Linked DNA regions of Homo sapiens. The protein of the gene in region 2 purifies or fractionates together with the protein of the main gene of each other region. This does not show direct contact. Each region holds a gene or a part of one and is shown on either strand. Other genes may lie near its edges. The genes, in order: FGF13 and CACTIN.

What was found.
Region 1: the proteins of CACTIN (region 2) and FGF13 purify together in Homo sapiens (co-immunoprecipitation; one large-scale study listed by IntAct). This does not show direct contact.

The regions. Positions count from the first base shown.
Region 1 is NC_000023.11:138,705,009-138,708,828, forward strand, and holds part of FGF13 (fibroblast growth factor 13), read right to left. Parts: coding exon 3,810-3,820; intron 1-3,809. UniProt on the Homo sapiens protein: Microtubule-binding protein which directly binds tubulin and is involved in both polymerization and stabilization of microtubules.
Region 2 is NC_000019.10:3,609,990-3,613,632, forward strand, and holds the end of CACTIN (splicing factor Cactin), read right to left. Parts: exon of another isoform or gene 3,598-3,643; coding exon 3,475-3,597; exon of another isoform or gene 3,377-3,474; coding exon 3,069-3,376; exon of another isoform or gene 2,796-3,068; intron 2,425-2,795; coding exon 1,934-2,424; 3' UTR 656-1,933; downstream 1-655. UniProt on the Homo sapiens protein: Plays a role in pre-mRNA splicing by facilitating excision of a subset of introns. Required for the splicing of CDCA5/Sororin, a regulator of sister chromatid cohesion. Involved in the regulation of innate immune response.

The DNA.
Region 1 (3,820 bases), on a different chromosome or scaffold from region 2:
AAGTAAGAGACCACAATCCCATTTATATAAAAGCTCATACTTCAAAAAATCTGAGATCTAAAAAACTAAAGCAAAACTTCCAACATGGGGTTGGTTTAAAAGCCATATCACTACATACCACTTGACAACTATAATATCAGTATATGCTTGACACCTAGTTTAGTCATAGTAATAAATGACAGAGAATGATAAATGAAATTCAGAATTATTTATAGAACTTCAGTTTTTAAAATAATATTATGAACTTTCTTAGTTCTCTTAATGCAGCTTATAACAAGCACAAGAAAGAAACAGAGAGAGACTAAAAAAAACTGATTTGATTTTCACCGTGTTCTCCAATCACTCTGACTCAGGTTTTAATGAGCAATGAAATGTCTAAATTTCAAACATCAGAAAACAGAAGGAGGAATAGAAGAAAAAAACATCAGCAGTACATTCCTGTGATTATTTAATCTTGAATAATGGTATTAACTATATAGCAAAACTATGTACTTTTCACTATGTACTTTAAATTTCCATGAAGCCTGATTAAAAAACAAAAAACATCACCCCAAAATAAAAACTTGTTGAGAGTAGCGAATCTAGGGATTGACTGATCATACTACTACGATCTTTTCATTTCTTTAAACATTCAAGATAGATCATAAACCGGGTTTGTTTAAAATATGTCTAAAGGGACAGTCTGCCCAGATAAAAATGCAAAGAAATTATATCAGGGGTGAGCTTAAACCAAATAAATATCCTCCTATGTGCTTTTGTTTCTCTATATCTGGTACCTTTCCTCATGGATTTAATATATTATTTTGATCAGGATAAAAATACTATAAACATGAGAAGAAAACAGTTGACTTCATTTATGGATTTAAAACACATTCATTAAATACCTAAAATCTCTTCTTCCATTTCAGTGAAAGTTTTGAAGAAGCTTTTAAAACATAAATGTGCCTGTGTTTCTTGTTTGTTCTCTGTTATGTCTGCATAAAAACAAACACCTTCTATTTGAAGGGCCACTTAATCAGAGCCATGTACCTAGTTGGCACCCAGTGTTTGCTGAAGGCAACACTGAAGCCATGCTTCTTCATCAGTTGGCCAAGGTCAATTTCTCAAAAGAGAATAATTAATGAAAGTATATATTAACGTAGGTTGGAAAGGCAACATGTTGAACTGATAATGCTACCGTGAGTTTGAAGAGAAAGGGAAAACTAGTCTTTTAAAATGTCCTTCCTTGCACCCAGGGCAGACATAATAAAATTACTGCCATGGAATGTCTATCATCTTTTCCTTTTCAAGGGAAAATACATAATTTACAATGGCTGATTTCCTCATGATGAGATTTTATTGAACTGACATTTATCATTGTAATAAATCTACGTAAGGTAAGGTGAAATGCATAATATCAAACATATGTTTTCAGAAATGGATATATCTGGATAAATGTGAACTGATTTATCAGGACATTGCTTACTATGTCTGAATAAAAATAACGCAATTCAATCAAATTAAACTAAATGAGAAAATATGCTGAAAATAATGAAGGTTAATAAAAATAAGAAGAGTAAGAAAAATATAAACATAGTATCACGAATACATATTAGGGAAATATTATATACATGAGTGATAGTTGAAAAAAACAACTTGTATTCTCGTTATGCACAATTAAACAATTAATACCAATAAAACGGCTTGGTTTTAAGGAAAAAAAAAGAATACATTTGGATAGCTGGCCTTCATGATATACCAGTTTAATCATTAAACCTTCTTGTTTCATGATGGCTTATGCCCCACAATATCCTCAATGGCAAAGCTGAGCTAGCTCACTAGCTTCTGGTCACTCTTAACATCAGGAGCAGATCCAAGCTCTACTGACTTGCTATTTCTATTGAGATACTTTCCATTTGTATGCATCAGGTTATGACAATACTTACCTTTAGTTGACTTACCTCTCTATTTTAATCTGCCTAAATACAGATTCCTGTTATCAGGCTATGTTCTTTAATGGTCTTTCAATATCATTAGTAGTACACAGAAATGCCATGCGTATCAGTCAGTTATAAGACAACCAAAGGCAGAAGCTATGCATATGTAGGAACTGAAGAGTAAAACCTACTGTATGATTTAAAGCTCCACAGTAAGAAATGGAGCCTTGATATATGCGTGTGTGGTGTGTGTGTGTGTATCTCTTAAAATGATTACTTAGAATGTGATCTCGATGAATTTGGTATATTGCTGTTCATAGGACACAGCACATGAATTATCTACTTTTTTTTTATTTCTTTTCAGGAAACACATGTGAACACCAGATCCAAAATATTTCTTCTCTGATTTGTACCCGGAGATGTTAAAAAGGGGAAAGAAACGTGACTGGATAGGCTCACTGGCAGCTAATCATGAACTTGCCTTCAATAATGCTCAACAGACCCATTTTCCTGAGGCACTCTGGAAAGCAGGGCAGCTTACATCCCCTAATTCCTTCCCCAAATATCAATTTGCACAATAACTTATGGGAATGTTTTATTGCAGATGATCACTATACACTAATGTCTGTTATTTGATTACAGTAAAGCCCTCTAGTTACACTTGCCTAATAGTTTCAAATAGAAGACTATGCATAAAAGAACAACTAGGATTTACTATAAAACTTTAATATCACAACAGTGACATAGAACTTTTGCAAAACAGTGAAGAACCATTCAGTATGAGGTTTTTTCATCCTCCATACCAACAAAGCTTTCTTCAATGGTAATTAAAAGTGACTTCCTCTCGAGGTTATAGATCGGCCATCAGCCCACGAAGCATTCCTAAAAGGTGGGAAACTCTTTACACTTATTGAGACCCTCGTCAATGGCATTGCTGTAGCCATACAACTCTTAAAAAGCTGCAGAGTATACTGCTTAGCATTCAGACCTAGTTTCCTTGGTTATTTTCTCAGCCGACAATTGGAATATTAATGCGAAATTATCAAAGGGTTTGAGAGAAATTCAGTAGAAATTGGAGAAAACAAAAAAAATTGTGAGAACTAAGTGTTTTAGCCTTGTGGAACATTTAGTAAGTCTCCAGAAATCTGTAAATTGCAAGAAAACATCAATCATCATTGAGGAGAAGCCTGCACTATTTGTGAGTTTATATTTTTATTACTCCTAATAAATAAAACATGTAATTAAAGGTTACGTAACATCTTGGAATCACCTTCTTTCAGTAATTGGAAATAAAACCTAATTATTTTTTATGTGTTTCTTTTTTAGGCTCACCATTATAGTCTCCAATTTGGTCTGAAACCATGGTTAAAAAGAAAGAACTAAAAGAAATCCCTTTACCCACCTGCGGAGGTATCTCAATGTTAAAATTCCACTAGTCTCAGAGTTATCAGTGTGTGTGTGGAGCAGGGAGCAGAAGTGAAAGCTTGTAATGATGAATTTTCATGGTATGAAACCACTCCTCTCTCTTGGGTTAAGACCGGTTCTTAAGAGTAGAGATAACATGCTATTTCTGGATCAGTGTGTGGGTGAGTAAATTTTCTGTGGGAAAAAAGTAATAAAATCCAAAGGATAGCCATAAATCTATCTAGATTTCCATGGAGATGACATTTGGATTATTCTTCAGATGGTGTCAACATTATTTGCCCTAGTTTACTATCTTAGACAGACTCATATTCAACTTCCTTTAGGTTAACCTGTGTAAACAGGATTATGTAGTGTGAATATATTTTGCATTTAATTCAGGATTTAGGAAAGCGTATTTATTTTTAAAATAAATAAAAACAGAATGTTAACAACATGCTGGCATATACTATTTATTTTGCAGTCACTTACTGTAAGTGCTG
Region 2 (3,643 bases):
TGTTGTGTGTGCTGCAATGCGATTTGGGATTCTGGAGTAGGCTGGTCAGGGTGGGCCAGGGTCTGCGGTGTGGAGAGCGGACGCTGATCAGATGCACTTCCCTGGCCAGTTCCCAAGCCCTGTGCCACAGACTTCCGGGATCCTGTTAGAGGTGGGGGCTGGGAGGTGACCAGTGCCCCAGGGGAGTGCAGGATCTGCCTTGCACCTCTGCCTACTGCAGTGAGGACATTTGGGGAGGCTCATCCTGGGCACTGAAGCACATTGGGCAGCATCCCTGGCCTCCACTCACTCCACGCCAGGAGCAGCCCCAAGGTGGGACCACCACGAATGCCCCCAGGCATGGCCAAGCGCTGCCCCCATGAGAGCCTGGGCCCAGGCCAGCAGCTGTGTCCACCCTTGTACCCTCCCTCCTGTCGTCTGGGAAATGGACTGTCACCCCCACTGTGGGAGGCAAGGCAGAGGGGTGGGGGGCAAAGACAGATCCGGGCACTAACACAGCTCCCAAGGGACCACCGGGCCCCAGTTGGGTGCCGTGTTGTTTCCCAGGCTCTTCCCTTGGGACAAATGCGCTGTGTCACAAATGCCAGCAGCAACTAGGGCAGCGGGTGTGGGGCGTCGGACACGTTACACTCTCTGCATTTCTGCAAACCTAAGATTATTCTAAAATACAACGTTTATTAAAAAAACATGCGATCTTGCCAATAGGCCAATTCCATGAGAACAAAAGATTTTTTTTCCCACCTACAAGTCTTTTTAGAGAAACAAACGGAACTATTTCCAGATGAGGCGGGGTGTCTGGGAGGGGCTGTGGGTGGTCTGGGGCTGGTGACTGGTGAGGTTGGGTGGCCCTCTGGGGGTCCGGGAGGCACTTTCCGTTTTGCTTCTGTTGGAGATGTTCCCGTCGGATGCTGAAGAACAAGCCTGCCGGCTGGGCCACTCCGACCTGGGCTGTGGCACCCGTGTGGCCCTCGGCCCTCCTGGCCTGAGAAAGGGGAGTGAGAAGGAGCCACTGTCCTGATATGGGCAAAACTCGGGGTCACTGGTCTCATGCTCCAAGGCCCCGTGAGCAGGCCAGGTGGGGGGATCCCTGGGGGAAGCCCCTCACCCTTCTCCAACCCCCAGCCTTCGGGGAGCCCCTGCCCTCCAGGCCCTGTGCTCAGAGGTGGGGGGAGGACGGCTCAGTGACTTTTGGTTCCCACGACCTTGACAGAGACAGGGACCTCGACGCATCCTCCATACCCGCTGCGGGGAAATGGACCCCACCAGCCAGCACGGGGTGAGTTGGGGGCCAGTCCCTGCAGAGTGTGGGTGTCCACAGAGGGTCTCTTCTGCAGTGGCGGATCGGGCGCCAGCAGGGTCCCGGCCTCAGTGCTGCCTGTGCGGGCGAGGGTGGCCTGTGGGCAGGGCTGGAGCTGCCCCACAGCCGCGGGCTCTGCCTCACGCCCAGTGGGTGCCCCGTGATGTGGCAGGGCTGGCCTTGAGTTTCCTGCTTCTCACGAGCCTGGCACCGCCAAGCCCAGGCCCCTCTGGCCCATCTCCACAACACCCTGTGTGGCCGCCACTTGGGGCAGGCCCTGTGGGCCCCACCCAGCCTGGCTGAGGGGCGGTGGAGAGTGTCCGCCTGGACGGTGAGGTCAGCTGGCGGCTGCTGGCCACCCTCGTGCTCGAAAGATGCCCCTAGCGCCCCCTCCGTTGCATCAGGACCCTAGGCCAGCCTGTCCCAGTGTCTCCTCAGCTCACCATGGCAGGCTCAATGGTGACCCCCCTTTTATATAGGAGGAAACTGAGGCCTGGCGAAAGAAAGATGCGGCCTGAGGTGGGACGTGAACCCGCGGCCCTGCAGCCCAGACAGCGGCCCCGGAGTGACCACCAGCTTCACCGAAGCCCCTTTACTGTGCCCCCGAGGACACCTGCCTGCCGTTCCCCAGGGCCGTCACCGCCGATAGCGGTAGCGCTTGAAGTGAAACCACAGCTGGAAGATGCCGTTGGCAAACTGGCAGCGGAAGCCGTGGCGGTGCGAGTATTCCCACTCGCGGTTGACGATCTTGAAAGCGATGTCCTCGTAGGGCGGCCCCGCGTGGAAGCGCAGGATGGCGAAATCCTTGTTGTCGGCGCAGGCCTCCAGGAAGTACTCGGGCGTGGAGCGCTTGTCGATGAGGTCGGGGTAGAAGATGTTGAACTTGTATCCCTGCACGATCTTGGGCGGTGGGTTGTCAAAGTCGTAGTGCGTCTGGTTGTACTTGTTCCACTCGAAGCCCGTGTGCACGCGGTTGAAGAAGCGCGGCTTGCGTGGCCGGTACTTGTCGGCCCACAGGTAGGCCTTGCCGGTGAGTGGCATCTCCACGCTGAACTGCGCCTCGTCCTGGCCCATGCCCTCCTTGGCCCGCCGGAAGAAGATGTCCTCGGCGCTCTCGCTGGCGTCTCCTGCGGGCGGGACGGCGTTCACCCGGGCCTCGGCCTCCCCCTGGGTCCTGGCCTCCCTCCTAGCCTCTCTGGCAGGGGCGGCCGCTGGTGCCTCCCGCAAAAGGAAAACAGGCTGGGGCGAGCTAAGGCACATGGGGAGGGGACAGGGCCTGGGCGACCCGGAGACCCACACCATCCGCCCCGAGCCCCGGACCTTGGTCTTCATGTCTATCGTCCTCCTGGGTGGGGACCAAGCGCAGCGCGCTTCCCCGCCGAGCGACAGGAGAACCTGGTGGTTAGGGCCTGGCTGCGGGATCCAGCCCCACGCATGACCCCCGAGGGGGTCCTGGCCCAGGGGTTTTCTGAAGCCAGTATTTTCTCCTCTGTCTTAGGACGGAGGCTGCCCAGGGAGTGCTCGGACAGCGGCCGGTAAAAGCTTCCACCACCTGTGGCCCCAAGGCCAGTGGGCCAGCAAGCCCAGGATGAATGAAGGAACGCCCCAGTGCGCGTGCAGGTGACGGAATGCACGCTCAGAGACCCGGGGGAGAAGCAGCAAGCAGCTCCCCACTGACGCCAGCGGCTTCGGCCGGGAAATGAGGCTGGAGAAGCCCCGCCCCCAGCTCGCCCCACTGGCCCCACCCCCTGGCCTCCAGCCCCGCCCTTACCCGTGACCTGGAGCTGCTGGCGCGAGAGCTGCAGGCGCTGCAGGTCCTCATCCGGTTCCAGCACGTGCGCGTCCAGTGGCAGCTCGTGCGCCGTGAGCAGCCGCGGGCTGTACCTGCCGGCGTCGTAGTCGTCCAGGCTCTGCTGGATCAGGTCCTCCTCCATGAGCACCGCCTCGCCCTCGCCCTCGCCCTCACCGTCCCCGTCGCCGTCGCCCTCTGTCGGGGTCGCGCCGTCCACCTCGGCCTCCGCGGGGCCGCCCTCCGAGGAGGGCCCGGGCGGGGTGGGCGCCGCGTCCTCAGGCTCCAGGCTGGGAGGAGAGAGCGTTGGAGGCGCGGAGGCTGCCCACGGCCCCTCCATCCTGCTCCGCGTCTGCATCGGCGTCCCCGGGGTGCCGGCCGGGCCTACCTGCGGCTGGGGGACTGGGGCTCCTGCTTGAGGATGGGGAACAGCGGCTCGCTCTCCACGCCCTGCTCCTGCTTCAGTTTGTACAGCTTCTGCCGCAGCACGTCCTGGTGGCGCTCACGCAGCCTGGGACGCAGAGCCGGGGTCACCCGCATGGAGGCGAAGGGGCTCC